Homo sapiens: one gene and its partners. The protein of the gene in region 5 interacts with the protein of the main gene of each other region in a pairwise test. Each region holds a gene or a part of one and is shown on either strand. Other genes may lie near its edges. The genes, in order: TSHZ3, ZBTB47, SLC25A6, HCK, MTUS2, ITGB4 and ZNF764.

The links.
Region 1: the proteins of MTUS2 (region 5) and TSHZ3 interact in binary tests that used the Homo sapiens proteins (3 or more experiments, as listed by UniProt).
Region 2: the proteins of MTUS2 (region 5) and ZBTB47 interact in binary tests that used the Homo sapiens proteins (3 or more experiments, as listed by UniProt).
Region 3: the proteins of MTUS2 (region 5) and SLC25A6 interact in binary tests that used the Homo sapiens proteins (3 or more experiments, as listed by UniProt).
Region 4: the proteins of MTUS2 (region 5) and HCK interact in binary tests that used the Homo sapiens proteins (3 or more experiments, as listed by UniProt).
Region 6: the proteins of MTUS2 (region 5) and ITGB4 interact in binary tests that used the Homo sapiens proteins (3 or more experiments, as listed by UniProt).
Region 7: the proteins of MTUS2 (region 5) and ZNF764 interact in binary tests that used the Homo sapiens proteins (3 or more experiments, as listed by UniProt).

Annotation. Positions count from the first base shown.
Region 1 is NC_000019.10:31,276,437-31,279,936, forward strand, and holds part of TSHZ3 (teashirt homolog 3), read right to left. Parts: intron 3,317-3,500; coding exon 111-3,316; 3' UTR 1-110. UniProt on the Homo sapiens protein: Transcriptional regulator involved in developmental processes. Functions in association with APBB1, SET and HDAC factors as a transcriptional repressor, that inhibits the expression of CASP4.
Region 2 is NC_000003.12:42,656,697-42,660,196, forward strand, and holds part of ZBTB47 (zinc finger and BTB domain-containing protein 47), read left to right. Parts: intron 1-1,578; coding exon of another isoform or gene 1,579-1,659; coding exon 1,660-3,132; intron 3,133-3,500. UniProt on the Homo sapiens protein: May be involved in transcriptional regulation.
Region 3 is NC_000023.11:1,385,652-1,389,113, forward strand, and holds the end of SLC25A6 (ADP/ATP translocase 3), read right to left. Parts: intron 1,769-3,462; coding exon 1,628-1,768; intron 1,109-1,627; coding exon 951-1,108; 3' UTR 501-950; downstream 1-500. UniProt on the Homo sapiens protein: ADP:ATP antiporter that mediates import of ADP into the mitochondrial matrix for ATP synthesis, and export of ATP out to fuel the cell.
Region 4 is NC_000020.11:32,099,799-32,102,356, reverse strand, and holds the end of HCK (tyrosine-protein kinase HCK), read right to left. Parts: intron 1,041-2,558; coding exon 838-1,040; 3' UTR 501-837; downstream 1-500. UniProt on the Homo sapiens protein: Non-receptor tyrosine-protein kinase found in hematopoietic cells that transmits signals from cell surface receptors and plays an important role in the regulation of innate immune responses, including neutrophil, monocyte, macrophage and mast cell functions, phagocytosis, cell survival and proliferation, cell adhesion and migration.
Region 5 is NC_000013.11:29,022,839-29,026,338, reverse strand, and holds part of MTUS2 (microtubule-associated tumor suppressor candidate 2), read right to left. Parts: intron 1,883-3,500; 5' UTR 1,671-1,882; coding exon of another isoform or gene 1,641-1,670; coding exon 1-1,640. UniProt on the Homo sapiens protein: Binds microtubules. Together with MAPRE1 may target the microtubule depolymerase KIF2C to the plus-end of microtubules. May regulate the dynamics of microtubules at their growing distal tip.
Region 6 is NC_000017.11:75,731,459-75,734,958, reverse strand, and holds part of ITGB4 (integrin beta-4 isoform 1 precursor), read right to left. Parts: intron 3,148-3,500; coding exon 2,986-3,147; intron 2,797-2,985; coding exon 2,720-2,796; intron 1,470-2,719; coding exon 1,267-1,469; intron 1-1,266. UniProt on the Homo sapiens protein: Integrin alpha-6/beta-4 is a receptor for laminin. Plays a critical structural role in the hemidesmosome of epithelial cells. Is required for the regulation of keratinocyte polarity and motility.
Region 7 is NC_000016.10:30,555,575-30,559,656, forward strand, and holds the start of ZNF764 (zinc finger protein 764), read right to left. Parts: upstream 2,801-4,082; 5' UTR 2,609-2,800; coding exon 2,413-2,608; intron 2,273-2,412; coding exon 2,159-2,272; intron 537-2,158; coding exon of another isoform or gene 534-536; coding exon 1-533. UniProt on the Homo sapiens protein: Zinc finger protein that functions as a cofactor for steroid hormone receptors, such as NR3C1/GR.

The DNA of each region.
Region 1 (3,500 bases), on a different chromosome or scaffold from region 5:
GCAGTTAAAATAAGAACATGTGCCAAGAACAACAAGTCAGAGGGGGCCTGAAGGTGCCTTCCACAGTTTCCCTCAAAGCAAACTGCAGTCCTTTCTATCAAAAGCAAATGCTACTGCTTCTCTAACTCAGAGACATACAGAAGGTGGTCTTCCGGAGATTTCCCGTGTGTTTTGCTAAGGTGAAGTTTAACAGCGTGCTTGCTGGCAAAGGTCCGATTGCAAAGTTTGCACTGATAGGAAGTCCCCAGGTCTTCCTCGGGGGAGGACGTCACCATTTTTTCTGACGGTGACTTGGTTTGTGCTATCTGACTGTTAATCTGTTCGGTGGACAGTTTGGATAAGTCCCGTAGCCGGAAGCCTAAGTGTGACTCTAGGTGACTGATGTACGTGGAAGGAGTCCTGATTTGGGACGCACAATCGTTACAAAAGAAGACGGGGTGGCCAGTGTCCAAGTTTTTGAGGAACTTTGTTCCACCTGTCCTTCGAAGCTGGTATTTCACGTTGGCCAGCCAGTGGCTGATGGTGGTCATGGACAGCCCGGTGAACCTGGAGATATGCATCCGCTCCTGGGGGCTCAGGTCTGACATGATGTACTTCCCTTCTGAGGTCTGCCGGAGGCTGGCGGCAAACTGGGCCTGGAGGATCAGGAGGTGCTGGGGGTTCCAGTTTGACTGGCGGCCCTTCCTCTTCTGGGCGGGCGTCGACTCCTCAGCCTCCTCCAGAGTGGCCCCGTCAATGTCAGACTTCTCGGAGATGCTGGAAGGAGTGGAGGATTTTGACGTGTGGCTCTCTGTCAAGTTCTTCAGCATATCGGATATATCTGACAAGGCATTCTCGCGTAGCGGCGAGTTTGACATGAATGATACGACGGCAGATGTCTTTGCCGTTGTCACCGTGGATGAGGAGGTTGCCGGGGCTGTGGACGTGGGTGACAGAAGCACTGAACCCAAGGAGCAGCCTTTGTCACTCTTCCCTTTTGTCAAGTCTATGGGCTGGTCGTTGTTGACGTGGTAGAAATAGCGGTCGAGGTGGTCTGCCTTCTTGGACTGCAGGGGCGGCGGGGTGGCCACAGCAGCCTTCTCCGCCAGGCTGTTGCTCATCTTGAAAAGCATGCTCATGGGGTCCAGGGCAGGCAGGGAGGGCTTGGCGGCCTTGCCCAGGTGAATGTTCATGACTGACTGCAGGGCGCTCAAAGGGTTAACAAAAGGCTGTTCAGGCGGGTGGTCGGTGATGATGGCCGTGCTGCCACTCAAACTGCTGGCTAGGGGCTTCACCAGCTCCTTGCCATTCTCCACCGGCTCAGCGAGGGGGCTCCCATCCTTGCACCCATCCCGCGGGGGGCTGGGGCTGTTCTCCTGGCTGCGGAAGCCCCCATCGCTGGATGCCTCCATCTTGATGGGTTCCCCGACTTCGCTGCTACATGGGGAGGGAGTGGCCCGCTTGGGCGGGGAAAGCTTCCCATCCGGCTCCTTCATCTTCTCCTCCACTTTGGCAACTTTCTCAGTGACCTTTTTCACCAGCTCCTCCATGGCATGAAAGTTTGTCTTGGGCATGGGGGACGTCTGGCTGCTGGGTGGAGAGACCAGGGTCTGGTTTTTCGTCGGGGAGACAATCTCACTGTTGCCAAACATGGGTTTCAGGGGCGTGCTCTTCCCCGACGAGCCCAGGGACAACTTCATCATGTTGGGAAGTTGGTAGGCGGCATGGATGCTGGGATAGCCCCCCCAGCTAGGAGTGCCGTTCTGGGCCTTGTTGATTGCGGATGTCACTGTGTTTTCCAAGGATTTGAGGATATCAAGCCCCCCCTTGGGACTCTCTTCTAAGTCATTTTCAGTCAAGTAATGGTATTTGGAAGAGATGTCACACTTCTCCTCTTCTTCGCCAGGCTTGTCTTTTTGCTTAGGTTTCTCGTCAGTGACCGCTTTCTCCTTGTCGACTTCCTTCTTGACCTCCACATTCAGTTTTGGGGAGATGCTGGCAGGTGTATTGGAGGGGGACGTGAAGGTGGTGGCTGCCAGGGGCACGGACTGGACCTTCTCATCCAGCAGGGTTGTGATGGTAGGTGTGACAGGCGTCTCCACAATGGGCTTCCCCTTTTTCATAGCAGAGTTGGTGACCTTGATGAAGTGGCCAGTGACCATCATGTGGGCAGTGAGCTCCTGCAGGGTGTCATGCGAGCTCCCACACTCCATGCACTTCAGGATCTGCGACTTCCGGGCCTCAAAGTGCCATGCATAGCTGGCCCCATTCTGGTGGCCGTACCGATTATTTGGCGTGATGTAAGGGTTGGAGTTCTTCTGAAGTGCATCGTTGGTGTCTGAGATGGTGGCTTTGGGGGTTCCACCTGTGGAATCTGGGGAGCTGGGGAGCTCCAGCTCCAGGGAAGCTTTCTTCCGAGTGGCAGGGATGATTTTGGCGGCGACAGGAGTGACGGGTTCCTTCAGAGGCACTTTTTGGTAGTGTTTTGTTTTGATCATATGGACACTCAAATCCTGCAGGGACTCAAAGGAGTGGCCACAGTACATGCACTTCAGCACCTTCTGGGCGTCTTCCTTCCCTTCCATTTCCAGCAAGGAGCGTTTGCGAGGCTTGGACCAGCGCTTGGGGTTGTTGTTATCGGTCTCATGGTTGTCGTCGCGGTAATGCCCCGTCTCGTTCATGTGCACCGTCAACTCCACCAGGGTGTCGTAGGCAGCGCTGCAGTCCTTACAGCGGAACTTGCTGGCCCCCGTGAAGATGGAGCCATAGAGCTTGCTGCTCTGCCGGTACAGCTGCACGGTGCTGAAGAGGCTGGGCTCCGGGAGCATGCGGCTCTGTGACACCTGCTGCAGCGTCTTAGCCATGGCGCTCTGGTGCCAGTCGAAGCTCCCGCTGCCACAGCTGCTGCTGCTGCTACTGCTGCTGCTGCTGCTGCCGTTGTTCTTCTCCGAGGAGGGCTGGTGCAGGTTGAGGTTGAGGTTGGACCAGTAGGAGTTGGAGAGGAAGTTGTTGTACACGGCCTTCATCTGCTCCAGGCTATCCGACACAGTCGTGTCTTCCAGTGGGACCGTGACCTCCTTGGTCTCCTCTTCGTTCTTGATGGAGCCGCTTTCAAAGTCAGCCATTCGGTCACTGGTCTCACTGATGTGTGACTCGCTGTCCATTTCATGGCAGGAAAACTCGGCGGCCGGGGAGTTCTGGTAGCTGGGGCAGGCCCTGGCGAGCTCCTTCTCCGGGCACATGTACTTGGCCGAGGGCTCTCCATCTGCCGTATGCTCCTCTGGGTCTAAACCTTCGTCCACCAGGGCAGCAGCCTTTAACTCTTCGGAAACATAGGCTGCCATGATAACAGGTGGGAAAGAGAGACAGGTAGGATGGAATGAAGAGAGACAGGGAGAAGGAGAGAAAGAAAAAAAAAAGCATTAGTACTTGTTGATCTTACCTAGAATATGTTCTGGGCTCTCAGGAAAACACAGCAACCCAGATGGGTACATGTATTTGTAAAATTAAACAGTTAAAAT
Region 2 (3,500 bases), on a different chromosome or scaffold from region 5:
GTGGCCCCTGGTGGCTCAGGGAGGCTCCTGCTGAGGCCCACGGTAGGTTTCTCATTCAGGTGACTGAGAAGTGGAGCTCAACCACCACCACCCCTGCCCAATCCCAGCCTACCCACTGCTCTCCTGGCGATGGAAGGCCTGGCATGGGGAAGGGGGGCGGTAGGCTGTGGATGGATGGGGCCAGGATTCATCCCAGGGTCCCCAGGGAGGCACTGACAGCTATGGAGCTGATGGTTTTGTGGCCATCAAAATATTGTGGCAAGGTACCTCCCGAATGCAGGAGGCTCAGACCTGGTTGGGCAGGCCCTGAGGAGAGCCAGAACTTGGAACCAGTGGTGCTGGTCCAGCTGGGCTGGTGGTTGGTGGATATTAACAACATCTGCACATCACTGTGTGATGGTTCTCGTGCAGGGACTGGGCAGGCTGCCTGTCTGTGCTGCCCACCTTTTGGGGAGGCTGCTGTGGTAGAGCCGGGGTGACTGAGTTGGCTTCTATTCCAGGCAATTCACAGGTGCTGGATGTGGCCCACAGGCCTGATAGTCTGACCCATCAGACATTGAGGGCCTCCGCTAGGGCTCTGGAAGCCCCAGATGGTGTGGCCTCTAAGGCAGGGCTTTCCCAGAGCCTGTGGACATGGACCGTACCTGACCTGGGGTCTGGGGGTCTACCGGGAAAAGGATCTGGGGCAGGCCTTGGGGGCCTCCTGCCTGCAAGCATGGTAGGCAGGTTCCACAGCTGTGTCCTTCCACCCCTGCAGAGCCCCTGAGTGAGAGAGAGCTGCTGGGGGCTAGGCCTGAGGCTGCAGGCAGGGGTTGGGGGCAGCCTGGCCCAAGCCCTGGCTGTGATGAGGAGACCTCACCAGGCAGTGCAGCAGGACCAGAGTGGGGAGAAGGTATAGGCCCTGAGCCTGGATTTCTTCACAGGTTTCAACTTCTGCAGCAGCCACATGGCTGTTGCGATGAGGGGTTCCCTCAGGTGCTACCCCTTGGATTCTGTAGCCAGAGACTGGGCAGTGAGCAGTGAGCCCGGCTTCTGTTCTTGAGGTGTTTGGGGCTGGGCAAGCTTGCTTTTATTGGTATGTGTGAGTGAATATGTGGAGAGAATCCACGGGGCTGAGGAAATGCTGAAGGAATGCCTGTGGCCCTCCTGGGGTGACCACCTGGTCCCGGTGTGCCTGCGATGGTCCTGGTTCTAGCACTGAAAGCCCTGCACCCCAGAAAATGCCCAGGTCCCTGGCAAACCTGGATGGTTGGTCACTGTGGTCTCTCTTTCATCCCCTTTCCTTCCCTTTCCCTTCCTGGGATGACTTTTCCCATTTCCCAGGAGATGACCCAGAGGCCCAGAAAGTGACAGGACCTGATCTTCAGCCTCAGAGGGTCACGAGTGGAGCCTGAGCTCTGAGGCAGCTCACTCAGGCTTGAATCCCTTCCTTGCTAGTTTCGGCTCTGTTGCTGTAAAGTGGAGCCACGAGTGATGGGCTGCCTCCTGGATGGCTGGCAATGCTGGGAGTGGTGCTGGGGGAAGGGCGGGCAGGGGCCCACTGGCCTTGACCCACTCCTGTGCCCTCTGTCCCCGCAGTTGCTGGTTGAGAAGACAACTGACTCCCCGGCGGCTGAGTTCTCGCTGGTGGAGGACGTGGCGCTGCACTTTGCCTGCTTGATGGGCCGCCTGAACGAGCAGCGCCTCTTCCAGCCTGACCTCTGCGACGTGGACTTGGTGCTGGTGCCCCAGCGCAGCGTCTTTCCGGCACACAAGGGTGTGCTAGCCGCCTACAGCCAGTTCTTCCACTCACTCTTCACCCAGAACAAGCAGCTGCAGCGTGTGGAGCTGTCCCTGGAGGCACTGGCACCTGGTGGCCTGCAGCAGATCCTCAACTTCATCTATACGTCCAAGCTGCTGGTCAACGCGGCCAACGTCCACGAGGTGCTCAGCGCCGCCTCATTGCTGCAGATGGCTGACATCGCTGCGTCCTGCCAAGAGCTGCTGGACGCCCGCTCTCTAGGCCCACCAGGTCCGGGCACTGTGGCCCTGGCCCAGCCGGCTGCCAGCTGCACTCCAGCTGCGCCGCCCTACTACTGTGACATCAAGCAGGAGGCCGACACCCCAGGCCTGCCCAAGATCTATGCCCGCGAGGGCCCTGACCCTTACTCGGTGCGTGTTGAGGACGGGGCAGGGACTGCTGGTGGCACAGTGCCTGCCACCATTGGGCCAGCCCAGCCCTTCTTTAAGGAGGAGAAGGAGGGTGGTGTCGAGGAGGCCGGTGGGCCCCCAGCCAGCTTGTGCAAGCTGGAGGGTGGAGAAGAGTTGGAGGAAGAGCTTGGGGGTTCTGGCACCTACAGCCGCAGGGAGCAATCCCAGATCATCGTGGAGGTGAACCTCAACAACCAGACACTGCACGTGTCCACGGGGCCAGAGGGGAAGCCAGGTGCCGGGCCAAGCCCAGCCACCGTGGTTCTGGGCCGGGAGGACGGGCTGCAGAGACACTCGGACGAGGAGGAGGAGGACGACGAGGAGGAGGAGGAGGAAGAAGAGGAAGAGGAAGGTGGTGGCAGTGGACGGGAGGAGGAGGAGGAGGAAGAGGGTGGCAGTCAGGGAGAAGAGGAAGAAGAGGAGGAGGACGGGCACAGTGAGCAGGAAGAGGAAGAGGAGGAGGAAGAGGAGGAAGGGCCTAGTGAGCAGGATCAAGAGAGCTCTGAGGAGGAGGAGGGGGAGGAGGGGGAGGCTGGGGGCAAGCAGGGGCCACGGGGAAGCCGAAGCAGCCGGGCAGACCCCCCTCCCCACAGTCACATGGCCACACGGTCCCGGGAGAACGCCCGGCGCCGGGGTACCCCTGAACCTGAAGAAGCTGGGCGGCGGGGTGGGAAGAGGCCAAAGCCACCCCCTGGAGTGGCCTCTGCATCGGCCCGAGGGCCGCCAGCCACTGATGGGCTGGGGGCCAAGGTGAAGCTGGAGGAGAAGCAGCACCATCCATGCCAGAAGTGCCCACGAGTTTTCAACAACCGCTGGTACCTGGAGAAACACATGAATGTGACCCACAGCCGCATGCAGATCTGCGACCAGTGCGGCAAGCGCTTCCTGCTGGAGAGCGAGCTGCTGCTGCACAGGCAGACAGACTGCGAGCGCAACATCCAGGTGGGCCTCACGTGGCTGGGGGCAGGGCAGAGGCTGTCCAGGTGGGGCTAGGCCATAACTGGGCTCTGGGCACCTAGTGTCTTGCTGACTGCATTACCTAGGTGGTCTGCGGAGACCAGACTTAGCCCCCAGACAGGCTGGCCCAGGCCCAGTTCTCAGGGTGGTTAGAGCTCAGGGGTAACATCAAGCCGAGCTTCCTGGGAGAGGTGGATAGAGTTGGGCGCATGAAGAGATGTGCAGAGGATTGGAACAAACAGTACCCTTGGCCAGAGGGACAAAGGGGACACATGGACTTGGGAGGATGAGAGTGGAGAGTTGTCTGAGCAGACAAGGCCAGAAGACAGGCCACTCTGGGTGGGATGAGTCAG
Region 3 (3,462 bases), on a different chromosome or scaffold from region 5:
GTGGGGGTCTTTGGGAGTCATGAGGCCTCATGGATGGGATCAGTGCCCTTACAGAAAGGACTCCAGAGAGCACCCTGGCCTCATCCATCATCTGAGGACACACAGGGAGAAGGCGCCATCTAGAAGCCAGGAACTGGGTACTCACCAGAGACTGAATCTACCATACCTTGGTTTTCTGGGACCTCCAGCCTCCAGAGCTGAGACATGAGATCATACAAATGCTCTCAGAGAGGGTACAGTAAGTGCAGGTGCCCTGGGGTCCTCCAGCATTTATCAGGGAGCCCGGCTACACTTCTGCCAGCCTTGGTTTCTACCCCCCGCCTCTTCCCAGCTGTGACCCTGCCCTCTGTGCCCCAGGGGTGCTGGGGAGGAGGCAGCACTGCAGACCAGGAACGTGGGCCAGCCACGGGCAGAGCGTGGCCCCATCTGCGTCCCGTGGGCCCAGCGCCCATCTCCAGACCCCAGGCCGCCCTGTGGAGAGGTGCGTGGCCAGGCAGGAGGACCTCTGCGTCCTCTGTTTATTGTTTTGCAGCAGGAGGCCCAACATAGAACATACTCGCCAGTACTCGGCTGTGCAAAACAGGGGCTAGCGCTGAAGTACAAATGGGAAAACGTGATTCTTTTGTTTTAAATAAATACTTAGAACACGACTTGGCTCCTACAAGCATCTGGACTCTAGGTCTCAGTACTGGAGTGTCTCACCCATGGGCCCCACGCAGGGACGCCACGGTTCCCTCCCACCCCGTGATCAAGACACGGAATCGGCTGCCGATGGTTGGATCGCAATGCGCCCCTTTTCTAGAGCCTTCCCCGGCCATCTACAGGCAGGATGCGGCTGGGAAAAAGACAACTGGAATTTCTCGAAGGTTGATGGTCCGCACGGTTGAGGATTCTACGTGGTTCTCTTGGTTCCCCTGGTGTGTGTGTGTGTGTGGAGGAGGCCGCGGCCCTTAGATCACCTTCTTGAGCTCGTCGTACAGGACCAGCACGAAGGCGCCCCCCATGCCCCGCAGGACGTTGGACCACGCACCCTTGAAGAAGGCCTTGCCCCCCTCATCTCTGAAGATCTTCCTCCAACAGTCGACGGTGCCCGTGTACATGATGTCAGCTGCAACGACAGGGAGACAGTGAGGGCCTCGCCGCCAAGCTCTTCAAGACACGGACGCCACCTGCACCCACAAAGACGTTTCACAGAAATAACACCCCAGACGCCTGAGCCACAGTTCTGATTACAGGAGGGATACCTGAGGCTCCCCCAGCTCAAGCCCTCCTCCTAAGCCACTGTCTCAGGGAGGGCTGGACACAGGACTTCAGGCCCCGCCCTGGGTGTCCCCCATCTCCACCCCGGGGTCCATGCAGAGAAGGCAGGATCGAGGGTGTGGGTGCAACCAGAGGTTCTAGGAGGCGGGGATTTAGAAACTGCCGCCCGGACCATGAAACCCCAAAAAGATCAGAAGCCCATCGTTCAGGAAAATCCTTCCACACAGCCAGGTTACTTTCGGACACACTTGCTTGTCTCACACGCCCTGGAAGTGCCTCCTTTGATGGTTCCTGACCTCCCACGGGCCTAGGGCAAGGAGCTTGGTTCCCCTTCCCGGCAGCAAGGGTCCCCCGCCCCCCCGAGTACCTCCTTTGCGCCCGGACTGCATCATCATGCGCCGCCGCACCGTGTCGAAGGGGTAGGACACCACGCCGGCCACGGCCGTCACGGTCTGCGCGATCATCCAGCTCACCACGATGTGCGTGTTCTTGGGGTCGGGGAGCATGCCTGCGCGGGAACGGCACGTCACCGTCTCCAGCGCCTGCACGGCCACCCGAGACCAGGGTCGGCCCCCAGGGTGTGCTCACGGCCCCCTGAGGTGGTGCCGAGCTCTTCCGAGACCACCAGTGCCCCCTCCACGTGGCTGCTCAGTGCCAGCTGACGTTTACAACACGAGAGGTCGGGGCAGGGCCAGAGGGGAAAAGGCCGCCTGCCACCTACCGGAGCCCAGCAAGACAGTCCCAGAGGCCGGGGTTAGGCCTGTTTGGGGAAGGGAATAGGGCCCTGACCTTCTGAAGGGTCACCGTTACTATGGGAGTTACACTCTGTCCTCAAAATCCACATGCTGAAGTCCCACCCCCACCCCAGGACCTCAGGATGCAACTGTACTTGGATATAAGGTCTTGAAAGAGGTAAGACTAAAGGAGGCCAGTAGGGTGGGCCCTGATCCTACGACCCCAGTGTCCTTCTAAAAAGAGATGAGGACACAGACACACGGAGGGATGACCCTGTGAGGACACAGGGAGAAGACGGTGTCTACAAGCCAAAAAGAGAGGCCTCAGAAGGAACCAGCCCTGCCCACTCCTTGATGTCAGACTTCCAGCCTCCAGGACTCCGGGAGAATCAATGTCTGCTGTTTATAAGCCACCCAGTCTATAGTATTGTTTTAGGAGCCTGAAATGGACTAAGACACCTCATAAGAAGAGCAGATAAGGACACAGACACACACAGAGGGATGACCCTGTGAGGACACAGGGAGAAGACGGCGTCTACAAGCCCAGGAGAGAGGCCTCAGGAGGAACCAGCCCTGCCCCACACCTTGATCTCAGACTTCCAGACTCCAGGATTATGGAAGAATCAATGTCTGTTGTTTACAGTCCACCCACTCTATGGTATTCTGTGATAGCAGCCTCAAATGGACTAAGACATCTCATCAGAAGAGGACACGAGGACACAGACACACACAGAGGGACGACCCTGTGAGGACACAGGGAAGACGGAGTCTCCAAGCCCAGGAGAGAGGCCTCAGGAGGAACCAGCCCTGCCCACACCTGGATCTCAGACTTCCAGCCTCCAGGACTGTGGGAGAATCAATGTCTGTTGTTTCTAAGTCACCCAGTCTATGGTGTTCTGGGATGGCAGCCTGAAATGGACTAAGACATCTCATAACAAGAGATGAGGACACAGACACACACACAGGAAAAAGCCTGAGAAGACAGCATCTCCAAGCCCAGGAGAGAGGCCTCAGGAGGAACCAGCCCTGCCCATGCCTTGGTCTCAGACCTTCAGCCTGCAGGACTGTGGGAGAATCAATGTCTGCTGTTTACAATCCACCCAGTCTATGGTATTCTGTGATAGCAGCCTGAAATGGATTAAGACATCTCATAACAAGAGGAGATGAGGACACAGACACACACAGAGGGACGACCCCGTGAGGGCACAGGGAGAAGACGGCATCTACAAGCCTAGGAGAGAGGCCGCAGGAGGAACCAGCCCTGCCCACACCTGGATCTCAGACCTCCAGCCTCCAGGACTGTAGGAAAATCAATGTCTGTTGTTTATAGTCACCCAGTCTATGGTATTCTGTGATAGCAGCCTGAAATGGATTAAGACATCCCATAAGAAGAGAGGATGAGGACACAGACACACACAGAGGGATGATGCTGTGAGGGCACAGGGAGAAGACGGCGTCTCCAAGTCCA
Region 4 (2,558 bases), on a different chromosome or scaffold from region 5:
CACCTCAGTCTCCCAAAATGCTGGAACTATAGGCATGAGCCATTATGCCCGGCCAAGTAATGTTATGCAGTTTTGTTGTCTTAAGCTACCAGATATGTGGTAATTTGTTACAGGAGCAAGAGGAAACTAATATAGCCAGTAACTATTTTAGGGCAGTTAGAAAACCTCAAGCATTGAACCCCAATTTTCTTTCCTTTCCTTTCTTTCTTCTTCTTCATCTTTTTTTTTTTTTTTTAAACAGGGTCTCACTGTGTCGCTCAGGCTAGAGTGCAGTGGCACGATCATAGCTCACTGTGGCCTCGACCTCCTGGGCTCAAGCAATCCCCCGCTCCTCGGTCTCCCAAAGCACTGGTATTATAGGTGGGAGCCACAGCACCCAGTCTGAACCCCACTTGTCTTTGTATTTCTGGTCCCCGGGAGAGTCCTTCACCATTTCTGACTTGTCATACAGCAAGAAGGCAAATAGATATTCAGGAATTGGAAGGACAGGAAAACCAACGTTTTGGTAAAGACTTTGGCATTTATATCTTTTATTTAAATATTCATTTCACTATTTTGAAAGTTTCCCTTCCAAATCACAGCTGTAACTAAAATCCAACCATTCCAGGAAATAGAAATATCAACTTGGGGGCTTCCTGAGAATGTCAGATTGTGGATTGCAAGAGTCAAAAAGAGATTTTCCAGTCCAACCTACCCACTGGACAGATGAGGAAACTGTGGCTGAAGCGAGGGTGGGTGTCTGGGAGTAGGAAGGGGGTGTGGGCCCTGGCGGATGGTGCTGGAGCCACCTTGCAGCCACCACCTGGGCACCCCCTGGCCCTGCCCTGGTCCTCCCTATCATGGCTGCTGTTGGTACTGGCTCTCTGTGGCCGTGTAGAAGTCATCCAGCACACTCTGGATGTATTCGAAGGTCGGCCGCTCCTCCGGACGGTTTTTCCAGCAGCGCATCATGATGTTGTAGAGCTCCTCTGGGCAGTTCTCTGGGCGAGGCATCCGGTATCCACGCTCCAGAGCTCGGATCACTTCAGGGTTTGACATCCCTGAAAAGGAGCCGTGGAATTAGAAACGGAAGCAGTTGGGAAATGAGAGCCCAGGGGTGGCAGGCCCTGTGGCCTCCCCAGCAGGCATCACTCCCCACCTCACCTTGCAAGCTGAGCCCCTTCCACTGTGAAAGACAGACTTCCACCCTCAGCTTCACTTGCAGCTAGGACATGGGCCTGGGACCCAGTTTGGGCCAATGGGAGCTGATGGGGAGGTCTGCTGGGAAAGTGATGGAAAGGTTTTTCCTCCCGCTTAGAGGAGAGTCTTTGGAGAACGCACCCTTCATCTCTTCCTTTGAACACTGTGAGATACTTATGATACTTGGAGCTGACAACATGGAGAAGACCATCATAGAGACAGGAACCCAGAGTCCTGACAGCTGCTGAGTTGCTGAACTAACCAGTCACCAATGGAAGATTGGGAGTAATAGATTGCTTCTATTTCAGTTACTCTTTGTCTGTTATTTTGTTGCTTGCTGTGGAACACATCCTAATGGATTCAGCGTCTATTGTGTGTTGCCTGGTTTTGACTAGTGCACCCTCAAGACAAAACATTCAGGTGGCCAGATTCAATGTTAACCTATGGGTGGGACCATTTTTTTGTTCAGTTCAAGTTTCTATTAGCTATTCATAAGAATAGCCATTCAATGTCTGTGATCCCCAATTTTATATTATTAGTCTCAAACTCCAAACTCATGAACTCAAGTGCTTCCTTTACTTGGATGTCTCTATATTTAAGTCAACTCAAATTTAGCAGAGCTAAAACAGAGCTCTCCAATTTCTATCCCTAGACCATTACCCACCCTGTGGTGCAAAGCCAGGGTAATCATCCTTTATTCTCTCTCTCTCACCTCCTAAGTCAGCAAGTCAGATCTTTTCTCCTTTTGAAACGTAGCACCAGTTCATCAACGTATGCCAGTCACGAATGCCACCACCCTGTCCAGACCATCATCACCTCTGCCTGGGCCACTGCTGTGGCCTCCTCACTGGCTGCCACCCTGTTCCCTTTCCCTCCCATTCACTCTCCATGCTGAAAGCATCGCTTAAAAATGGAAATCACCAGCCCGGCAACATAGCAATACCTTGTCTCTCAAAAAATTTAAAGAATTAGCTGGGCATGGTGGTGTGTGTCTGTAATCCCAGCATTTTGGGAGGCCAAGGCTGGAGGATCGTTTGAGCCTGGAAGTTAGAGACCAGGCTGCACAACGTAGTGAGACCAAGTCTCTACAAAAAAATTAAAAAAATAAAAAATAGCCAGACATGGTGGCATGTGCCTATGGTCCCAGATACTCGGGAGGCTGAAGCGGGAGGATCATTTGAGCCTAGGAAGTCGAGGCTGCCATGAGCTATGATTACACCACTGCACTACAGCCTCAGTGACAGAGTGAGACCTTGTCTTAAAAAAAAAAAAAAAGGTGGAGAAAGGACAAGATCTGATTTAAAGTTTAGAATTATCCTTCTGGCTGCAAGTGGAGAATAGGCTGTAGGACGAGGAGGGAGAAAGCAGTAAGACTGATG
Region 5 (3,500 bases):
TGGTAGGTCATGTTCACAGTTGTCTCTGGGTGGAGGGGTGCTGGAATATTGAGAACTGAATCTGCTCTTGCTGAGGTGCTTTCAATCTTATCTGCATTCTCTAGAAGGTTCCTGTTTTCAGCAACAGATGTGGTGACCTCTTTGCTTTCCCGTGCTTCTGAGCGGCCACTTTGAGGGTCCAGGGGCTCAGGCACCTCCGTCTTGTTCTCTCCAACAGAAGGATTGAACACCAAAACCATAACACTGTCCTTATTCCCACTGCCCAACCGCCTTTCCTCCTCAATGACATCCAAGGGCTTGCTGTCAGTCAGATTATTAGGAATAAAAGCCACATGACTGTCACCTGGTGAAAAGCTGCTGGATGTCCTTTCACCCAACTTCTCACCTGCACATGGTGAAATTTTGCCAGTGGGCTGATTATCAGCCCCTCCTAAGGAAGCAGAGCCCTGTTTGGGGGTGGTGTGGAGAGAATCCTGCTCCCCTGGGTTGACTCCTCTCTTCTCTTCACAGTTGCCTCTTCCCACCCCAAGGTGGTGGAGGTCACTGTTCAGCAGATGGCCAAGTGCATCGGTGGCTTCCGGGTGTGCTTCCCCACATGGATCCCTTCCCTCCAAGGCTGACAGATTCTCTTCCTTGTGGCATCCCAGATACCCTTCCTGGGCTGCCTTTCCCTCCTGTTCAACTCTCCTGGGAGGAACATATTTCAGATCCAGCTTGGCCTCTCCCTTTCCCTGACCTAATTGTGCTTCCAGTTTACTTGGGATTTCCTTCGATGCCAAAGTCAAATTCAGAGCAGGCTCTGGATGGGCGGAATGTGATGTGTGCTCACTGCACACCTGCAGTACATGTGCCCCCACTGTTTGGGTCTCTGAGGGAGTGCTCTGCTTGCTTTCTGAGGTAGATGGTTTAGGATGACGCACACTCTTTCCCTCTGAGGTACTGTCAGTTGCAGGGAAAGCTGCCGGGACAGCGTGGTCTGGCAATGTCTTCTGTGGCCCCTCCCCACCCCCAGGTATCTGACCCCGTGCTTCCCGGGAGTCGAGGGATAGAGGCTGTGGATGCTGCGGAGTCAGGCTCCCGACTGCAGCTACAGAGCTGCTTGCTCTTTCCAAAGAATGCCTCCTCAGTTCCTCATTGTCAAGGGTCTTTGCCAGTTTATCCTTGGGAACATGCCGGGGAATTTCAGCATCCCTTTTAGCCAAAACGTCTAGACTGGCCTCACTCATCACATTCCTCCAACTCGACAGACTTGGTCCCTGAATACTCCGCGTGGTCTGCAGGCTATCTGTGCCTCTCTCCACTGTGTGCTCTTCATTGAGTTCCCTCTGAATGGTTGAAGAAAGTCTAAAATCTTTCAGGCTGGCAGAGCCAGCCTGAGAGCCTTTCCCAAAGCCCTGAAGTTGGTGAAATTCCTTATGGAAATGGGTACGGTTTTCTGGCTCACTTGAATTTGTATTTCCAATTTCATCTCCCAGGTCACATGTCTTGGACTCGTCATGAGAGGAGCTGACCTCCAACATGATTTGATTGGCATTCGTATCTCCCAGACTTAAGATGCTTTCATTATTATTTCTTGCTGCATTTCTGTTGTCCCGCAACTGAGTGTAACATGATTTCTTAGGAGCCACTGGGACGCTCATTGTCAACCCTTTGGTGGGGCTGCTTGCCATGCAGTCCTACTTAATGGAAATGGGCTGCCTTCAAGCTGCAATCAGATTAAGAGGAAATTCTCAAGCTGCTTGTTCTCCCCTGACAATGTCACCTTGCGACACTGCTTTAATCATTCTCAGAACAGCTTGAAAACCAAGCATTGTCTTGATATACAGCAGGAAGACTTATCTGTTAGGTTCCTGCTGAATGAGAGCCAATCAGTCCATGAGACCTAGAGAGAAATAAAAATATATTCACATTAGATTGACAAATAGAACTTCTCAGGAGAAAAAAGTGGTAAACACAGATTTATTTGTCATTTCTATATTATTATTTCATTCAATCAATAGTTTTCTCAAAAAACCTTTCTGATCAGGGCTCCTCCTGGCCAAATACAAAAATTAAACATCAAAATGTTTAATGTTAGAAATGGATTATAAATGCATGTGAGATCTTAAATCTAAATTTTAAACATCCACAAGTCTATACTGATACTGATTTAAAAGGATGGAGGAGAAGTAAGGGCTCTTCTTTACAGAAGAATATCAACGAATGTAGAAAAAAATTATAGAATTTGAAAAATCACTATTTTGCAATCGCTACATTCATAATTATCTTACACAAGGGATGCCAAAGGTACAAACATTGGGTAAAAGATTGTTGGGGAACAAGATATTCATAGATGCTTAAAGTATCTTCCCCCAGGCTACTTCATTTCTTACAAAACGAAAATTTTATCTTTACAATGGAGAGATCTGGTAGACACCACATTAACCACGTGATCAAATTTAACATCACTAGTAATGAAACTGACATTACGGACTCCTGATATTAGTTAGTTCTCAGGGCCACACATCACCTATGCAGTAGTTAATGTTCAACCAGAATTTAACCATGAGACAATAATCTGGCAAATTTAAATTGAGGTATGTATTGCAAAATAACTGGCCTAACTGGTCCCAAAAAATGTCAGCGGAGCCTGGATTTTCAAAACATGTTAGCAAAGGATATTATTAGGACAATTAGAGATTTAAATATGGACTGTATATAAGGTACAGGTATTTTATAATTAATTTTCTTGGGTGTGTAATCGTGCTATAATTATGCCAGAGATTAATTTGGTTCTTGAAATATACATGCTTTAGAATTCAGAGGTAGTATGTCATGATTTTTCTAACTTATTCTCAAATGATTCGACCAAGAAAAACGTGTATGTATGTGTGTGTGCATATGAGAAGGAGAAAGAGTAAAAGAGAGAAACTGGCAAAAGTCAACCATTTGAAAATCTAGGTAATAATTCTATTACATCTGCAACTTTTCTATAGGTTTGAAATTTTCCAAAATAAAAACTTGGGGGAAATGCTTTACTCTGGCCTTCGAGGCCTGCATGATCAGGCCCTGAACACCTTTCTGGCCTCAACCCCACCTCACCCTCTGCTCTGCAGGCTGCAGCCACATTGGCCTCATTCCTCACAGTACCATGTTCATTACTCTCTGCCTCAGGGCCTTTGCGCATACTCTTCCATCTGCATGGAATGTGGAATCCTCCCCCAACCTCATCTTACAAGTCCTTTGCATCCTTCAATATGCAACATAACTACCACTTCCTCCAGGAAGCGTTCCTCACTAGGTCATCCTATAATGATGGATTTGTAGTATCCTGTATTTTCACTTTGAAGAATTAAAAAAAGACTTTCAGATTTGCTAGACACTGAAAATAAATATTGTCTAATACCTGGCATACATATTAGGCACGTATTATGTATTTGCAGCACAAATGAATGAATAAATGTCCAAATGAATGATGAGGAAGATCAGCGTTATTTCTGCCCCCAAAGAGTTTAAAATCT
Region 6 (3,500 bases), on a different chromosome or scaffold from region 5:
AAATAGTTAGAAAATGAAAGTAAAACCTCCAGTGACCCCCTTTTGTCCAAAGGATGAAGTCCTGCTCTGGACTAGAACCGAAGCCCTTTGTACTCTGGCCCTGCCTCCTTCCCCAGAGGCACCTTCCTCCCTTCCTCTCTCATACCTCCCTCTGTGCCACTTGTCTGCCTTTCTCCAGTGGTGCCCAGTTCTCTCTTCTGTTTCTCTGAGCACACTCAGGGACAGACAGTCGAAGAGAAGAAATGGTGAACAAAAGCAAGAACAGAAGAAAGAGTAGAAAAGCAGGGGCTTGGAAAGTATACAGTGAGGGCTTCATAAGTATTTGATGAGTAGATTTTCATTCATCCTCCTCCATTCAACTACCAATCCTTCCCTATGTCCCCTTGTCTGAGTTCTGTGATCCTGCCCAGCTCTGATGTTCCTGGCCAGACTGTATGCCTATGGCCTGGACCCATGGGAATACAGAGGAAGCTCCAGGCCTTCCAGGTAGAAATTTAGCATCTTTGGGCCGGGCTCAGTGGCTCACACCTGTAATCCCAGGTGTGATTACAGATGTGTACTTTGGGAGGCTGAGGCGGGCAGATCACCTGAGGTCAGGAGTTCGAGACCAGCCTGGCCAACATGGTGAAACCCTGTCTCTACTAAAAATACAAAATTAGCTGGGCATGGTGGTGCATGCCTATAGTCCCACCTACTAGGGAGGCTGAGGCAGGAGAATCGCCTGAACCCAGGAGGCAGAGGTTGCAGTGAGCCAAGATTGTGCTATTGCACTCCAGCCTGGGCGACAAGAGTGAAACTCTGTCTCAAAAAAAAAAAAAAAAAAAAAAAAAACAGCAGCAACAACAACAAAAAACCCACAGAAATTTAGCATCTTTGGAGAGAGGAAAGATCATAATGCCATATACCTGCCAGCCATTGGAGGGCTGAGCTGGGTGGCACCCACTCTAATGAGATAGGGGTGTGGAGAAGTGGGGTGGGCATAGAACTGAACTTCCAGAGAGAACCTCAGGGGAGTTGGAATCTTAAAACCAGGGGAAAGTCCTGCCAACAGTGACCTTGGGCATGGACGTTACAGATGAGGGAAGTCAGGCCCAGGTTGGGGCAGGACTCAGGGGCGGCCCTCAGGGCATCCAGAGTGGGCTGGGCCTGAACTTGGGGATTCTGATTCCAAGTCTGGCTCTCCCAACCTGGGTCCTGACGGGAAAGTCATGCTTGCTGTCCACTCCCTACCCCGCCATCAGCATTGGCCGCAGTTGTTGTGCTCACCATTGCAGAGGAACCCGGAAGTGCGGGGACACTGGAAGTTGTCATACTCGCAGAACTGACCCTCGTAGCGGCCTTCGCCGTAGCACACACAGTGCCCGCACTGGCACTCCCCACGGCCGGAGCACGGCTTGTCCTCGCCCTCCCGCAGGCAGGGCTGAATGTCACTCAGAGAGCCGGTGGAGCAGTTGCAGGTCTGGCCACTCCTGAAGGAGGAACTGGTCATTCCCCGAAACAGCCCAGGAGGAAAGCTGGGGCTTTTGCTGTCCCATTTAATTTAATTTAATTTAATTATTTTATTTTTTTTTTTGAGACGGAGTCTCGCCTTGTCGCCCAGGCTGGAGTGCAGTGGCGCGATCTTGGCTCACTGCAAGCTCTGCCTCTTGGGTTCACGCCATTCTCCTGCCTCAGCCTCCTGAGTAGCTGGGACTACAGGCACCCGCCACTACGCCCGGCTAATTTTTTGTATTTTTAGTAGACGGGGTTTCACCATGTTAGCCAGGATGGTCTCGATCTCCTGACCTTGTGATCCGCCCACCTCGGCCTCCCAAAGTGCTGAAATTACAGGCGTAAGCCACCGCGCCTGGCCTATTTTATTTTATTTTTTTTCAAGACAGAGTTTCGCTCTTCTTGCCCAGGCTGGAGTGCAGTGGCGCGATCTCAGCTCACGGCAACCTCCGCCTTCTAGGTGCAAGCAATTCTGCCTCAGCCTCCCGAGTAGCTGGGATTACAGGCATGCACCACCACGCCCAGCTACTTTTTTGTATTTTTAGTAGAGATGGGATTTCACCATGTTGGCCAGGCTGGTCTTGAACTCCTGACCTCAGGTGATCCACCCACCTCGGCCTCCCAAAGTGCTGGGATTACAGGTGTGAGCCACCTCGCCTGGCCTGCTGTCCCATTTTACAGATGAGGAAACTGAGGCTCTGAGAGGGCCGAGGCAGCTCCCAGTCATGCAGACAGAAGTGGCTGAGCTGAGACCTAAACCCCAGTGCCCTGTCATGTCACCCCTTCCAGTGTCCTTTCCCCACTGCTCTGCCTCAAGTTGTGGCAAGCTCGCCCAGTGTCCTGAAGCTAAAGCCCTTACTGCCGTGCATTTACGAGCTCTCTTCTGATCAGGCAATATGACACAGGACTCAGAATACCAAAGGCATGGAGCAAAAAGGAAGCCTCGTGTGCCTGTCCCCCAAGATCCAGACCCCAGCCCCAACAGCCAACCCCGTCTCAATCCTCACACCTCTTTCTAGAGACAGCCCATATATCTCTGTATTTCAAAGTGCTTTGACCTGGGTTTGACCAACAACTGGGTGTGCCCCGCCCTTAGCCGTTTCTTTGATTGCCGCCCCACCCCCAGCCAGGTGTACAAGGTGCACCCAGGGCCAGGCCCCTGCAGGAGCCCAGCTTTCCCATCAGGGGCCACTGGTGTCCTGGGTGCCCAACTCCCTTCCCCACTCACCAGCCCTCGCTGCACACACACTGTCCGCACACGAAGTCTCCGTTGAAGCTGCAGCGAGCTGACCGCACCTCTTTTTGCTGGAATGAGAGAGACCATGGTGGGGTGCGTCGGGGGAGCAGGACCGGGGCCACTGGACACTTCCGCTCTCCTGTGTGCCTCGGGAAACCCCACAAGGGATATGGGGCACAGGAGTCCTGCTTCATTCCTCAGGGTCCCTGGGTGCTTGGCTCAGCTCTCCCCTCCCGCCCTGCGGGGCTGCGTTGTACCAGCTCGCAGGTGCACACATCACAGATGATGCCCGCGTCCATCTTGAGGCCGTCGGAGAAGGAAGGTTTCAGATGGATGTTGCCCTTCTGGTCCTCCGGCAGCTGGCACACGTGCGTCCCATCCACGTGCTCAAGGGCCCGCAGCTGCACCTGGTATATACCCTGCAGGGGCCCCGTGGTCAGCCAAGGCAGGCCCAGCCCCAAGGACCAGGGGGCCATCGATGCCTGAAGGCCCTCGGCCCCCAAGTTCCTAGGAGATGTCTGGATCCCTGAAATGAGCTCCTGCTCACCTCCCTCAGGGCTGGAAACTCCCTCCTTCCCAGCGCAGTCACAATCATAGCGACAATGACAGTGGCCAGGGCCTCTGGGCTTCGTGACACTAACCCATTTACTGCCCCAGCAAGCCTCCGGGCTCGACGCTTGCATGCCGAGGAAACCAACAAGCAGAGGAGCAACCTAGGCTCATCCGAGCGGCTAGGCCCAGGGATCTGCACCCAGGCCTGCCTGACTCCAGG
Region 7 (4,082 bases), on a different chromosome or scaffold from region 5:
GCTGTGCACGCGCCGGTGCTGGTAGAGGGCAGAGCTCTGGCTGAAGCGGCGGCCACAGTCGGCGCAGCCATAGGGTTTCTCGCCGGTGTGGACGCGCAGGTGCGAAGTCAGCGCCGAGCGCTGCGTGAAGGCCCGGCCACACTCCAGACAGCGGTGGGGCCGCTCCCCACGATGGATGGCCCGGTGTTTGCTCAGGGAGGAAGCGTGGCCGAAGCCCTTGCCGCAGTCAGTGCAGTGGAAGGGCTTCTCGCCAGTGTGACTGTAGACGTGCTCCACCAGTGTGGAGCGCCAGGCAAAGCTCTTCCCGCACACGTAGCAGCCATGACGCTGGTCAGCTCGGGGGACAGGGGGGTGGGCACAGAGGGAGGGGCGTCCCCGGTGCGGTGCCTTGGACAGCTGCTCCCAACCATAAGGGGGCCCGGCCGAGGGGGCTTGGGGAGACTTCAGCCCAGGAGACCCGGCGGCCACAGGGTCGGGCTTCTCCAGGGCTCCCGTCCCTTCCCTTTGTCTTTCCTTTTTCTTGTTTCTGGAATCTGCTGAGAGATAAAGAGGGGAGAGTTCAGGCTCGGCTCATCCTGGTCCTTGAATCCCACAGCCCGCGTGGACAGGGACAGGCCTGCTGGATCCCCGGCTGCTCCTGGGAGATGGAGGAGTGACACCTGTTCCTCGGCTGCAGAGCCAGACAGAGCCGGGAGGGAGAGAACAGCCCATTCCGCCTCGGGGCTGGGGAAATGTCACGGTGGGGGAAGGGCAGAGATGACATGAACATCTGGGCCTGATCCAGAAGGAGGAACGGACACCTGAGGATGTTCCAGGCAGCAGGAACAGCACCAAGAAAGGCAGAACCAGGAGGGCATGGCCAAGTTCAGTGGGGCTGGATACTCTGCAAAGGCTGAGGGCAAGAAATGAAAGAAAAAAAGGGGGGCGGACGGGGAGAAAGGAACCAGCCTGCAGGTGAACGGCAGGGGTGGGTCCTGAGGTGGAGGTAGAGTCAACAGAGTTTAAGAGACTGGGCGTGGGGGCTCAAGGCGGTAATCCCAGCGCTTTGGGAGGTAGAGAAGGAGGATCAGCCTAGGATTTCAGGACCAGCCTGGGCAACACACCGAGAGCCAAGACCCCCTCTATAAAATATATATATTACATAACAATTTAAAACAATTAGGCCAGACGCAGTGGGTCACTTTGGAAGGCCGAAGCAGGCGAATCGCTTAGCTCCAGGAGTTAAAGACCAGCCTGGGCGACATAGTGAAACCCTGTCTCTACTAAAAATACAAAAAATTGGCTGGGCGCGGTGGCTCACGCCTGTAATCCCAGCACTTTGGGAGGCCGAGGCGGGCAGATCACAAAGTCAGAAGTTCGAGACCAGCCTGGCTAACATGGTGAAACCCCATCTCTACTAAAAACACAAAAACAAAATTAGCCGGGCGTGGTGGCGGGCGCCTGTAGTCCCAGCTACTGGGGAGGCTGAGGCGGGAGAATGGCGTCAACCAGGGAGGCGGAGCTTGCACTGAGCCGAGATGGCGCCACTGCACTCCAGCCTGCGCGACAGAGGAAGACTCTGTCTCAAAAAAAAAAAAAAAAATTAAGCAGGCTTGGTGGCGGGCGCCTGTAATCCCAGCTACTTGGGAGGTTGATACAGGAGAATTACTTGAACCTGGGAGTGGGAGGTTGCAGTGAACTGAGATGGCACCACTGCACTCCAGCCTGGGCAACGGAGTAAAACTCTGTCTAAAAAAAAAAATTACCCAGGCTTCGTGGCGAGCACCTGTACAGTCTTAGCTACTCTGGAGGCCCAGGTGGAAGGACTGCTTAAGCCCGGGAGTTCCAGGCTACAGTGAGCTATGATGCCGCCACTGCACTCAGCCTAGACAACAAAGCGAGACCCTGTCTCTAAAACAAAAACACCAAAAAAAGCCCCCAGAGTGTAGTGACCACGCAGAGGTGAGGACTCAGAGGCGGGTATGGCAGGGCCAGAGCCCCCATCACAGCTCCTTTCTAGGCTGCATCTGGGAGCCACGCAGGGGCTCAGCCTCGTCGTCGCAGTTGAGAAGGCAGTTCAGAGAGGAAACTGCTAAGCAGGTAGCTGGAGGTGGCAGAGGGTACCGGGATGGGACAGGAACAGAGAAGTCCCCATGGGACTGAGCACCCGATACTCCACCTGGGTCCGTTTGTGTCTGACATTTCGCCACCTCCGGATCCTGGGCAGCCGGACCCCACAGTTCGGCCTCCTCCTCCACCCAGGAGATGAGAGCTGGCTTGTTGCCTCCGATTCCTAGGGAAGAAGAACGCAAACCCCACGCTGCGGGGAGGCCACCTGCCCGGCCCCGGGGCCCCCAACTTCACGCGCAGCTCCCAGAGGCGCGGCAGGGCCTGTGGGGGCGCAGGGCTCAGGCGAGCAGGTGGGGCTCTCACCGAGAGCGCTCAGGTGGCCGTAGGTCTCCCGCATCACGTCCCGGTACAGGGCCCTCTGCGCTGGCCGCAAGCAGCCCCACTCCTCCCGGCAGAAGTACACGGCCACGTCCGCGAAGCTCACAGCCCCCGGCTCCCTCCACTCGGGTCCGGCCCCGTTTGGGTCCCGGGGAGGGAGCGGGGCCAGAGGCGGCGCCATGGTAACTGTCAACCCCGACGACGGATCGGCTGCCTCCCCTGGCCTGGCCTGGGCCTGCGGAACCTCCTGCGCCCGAGAAAGCCTCCCCGGCCCGGGCCCAAGGGAAGGAGGGAGGTTACTAGGGCCCCCGAGGGCGCACTAGAGGGCGTGGAAACTAACGGTGCCGATGGCAGCGGGTGTATAATCAGAAATGGAATATGCCCTCATAAAAAATGGCGGCGGCGCGGGTACTCGACCTTTGCCCCTACGCAGTCGTGCCCAAGACAACGCCCCCGGTATCTCCAGTCCGCGTTCTCTCCGTACCCTCATCCAAAATGGCCGCGGTGACTAATACAGAGGCCGGCCTTGAAAACTAGCCGCGCATGTTTAGTCCCCGGCCCGGCGAGGCGGTGCAGCAGAGAGCTCCGCCCCGGCCCGGCGAGGCGGTGCAGCAGAGAGCTCCGCCCCGGTTTGCACGAACAAAAGAGCGCCTCGCGGGAGTGAGCTGGCCTCCCGGCCTTACTGAACTCAGGCATTAGTTTTCGTTTGTGGACCGTTTTATAATCGGGCTCCAGCTCATCACTCTCTCGTTTTGTCCTTGTTATCTCAGAAACAGGGCAACAGCAGTCTCTTCCCAATGTTGAGTGTAAAAAAACCAATGGAGTGGGCGTGGCGCAGTGGCTCACGCTTGTAATCAGCAGTTTGGGAGGCCGAGGCCAGCGGAACAACTGAGGTCAGAAGTTCGAGACCAGCCTCACCAACATGGTGAAACCCCGTCTCCACTAAAAACACACAAAAAAACAGCCAGGTGTGGTGGCGTGCACCTGTAATCCCAGCTACTGGGGAGGCTGAGGCAGGAGTATCGCTTGAACGCGCGAGGCGGAGTTTGCAGTGAGCCGAGATTGCCTCACCGCACTCCAGCCTGGGCGACAGAGCGAAACTCTGTCTCAAAAATAAAAAAGAAAGAAAGAAAGAAAAAGGAGTGGATACAGGAGAACCTCCTCCATCGTAGGCTTGTTGGGGCCTGAAATTCTGGAAGTTTCTAGATGGCGGAGGCAGTGGGGAGAGTAGGGTAAGGTTGAGAAAGTCAGAGGGTCCTCTCTTCTAGGAGCTTCTCCCATGTGCTGCTCAGGACGCCTCCCAATTGCCAGTCTCCCTGTAGCTGCAGCCGGGCTCTCACCTCCCCTCACATCCTGCCCCTGGACAGATGGCCCAAGGCTCCTCTACTCAAATCCAACTCATCCCTTTCTTGCCCCAATCTGCTTCCCCTAGGGTCTTTATCTAGTAAATGTCACCAACTCTCCCCCAGACCTCTCTCTCACTTTCTGATGGTCTATTCTGTGCTCCACGTGACTTCATACATGTCCTGTTGTAGCAGGACAAGCCACAGACAAAACCCCTCAGACACCGAGTTGAAGGAAGGGTTTTATTCGGCTGGGAGCATCGGCAAGACTCACATCTCAAAAACCGACTCCCCGAGTGAGCAATCCCTGTC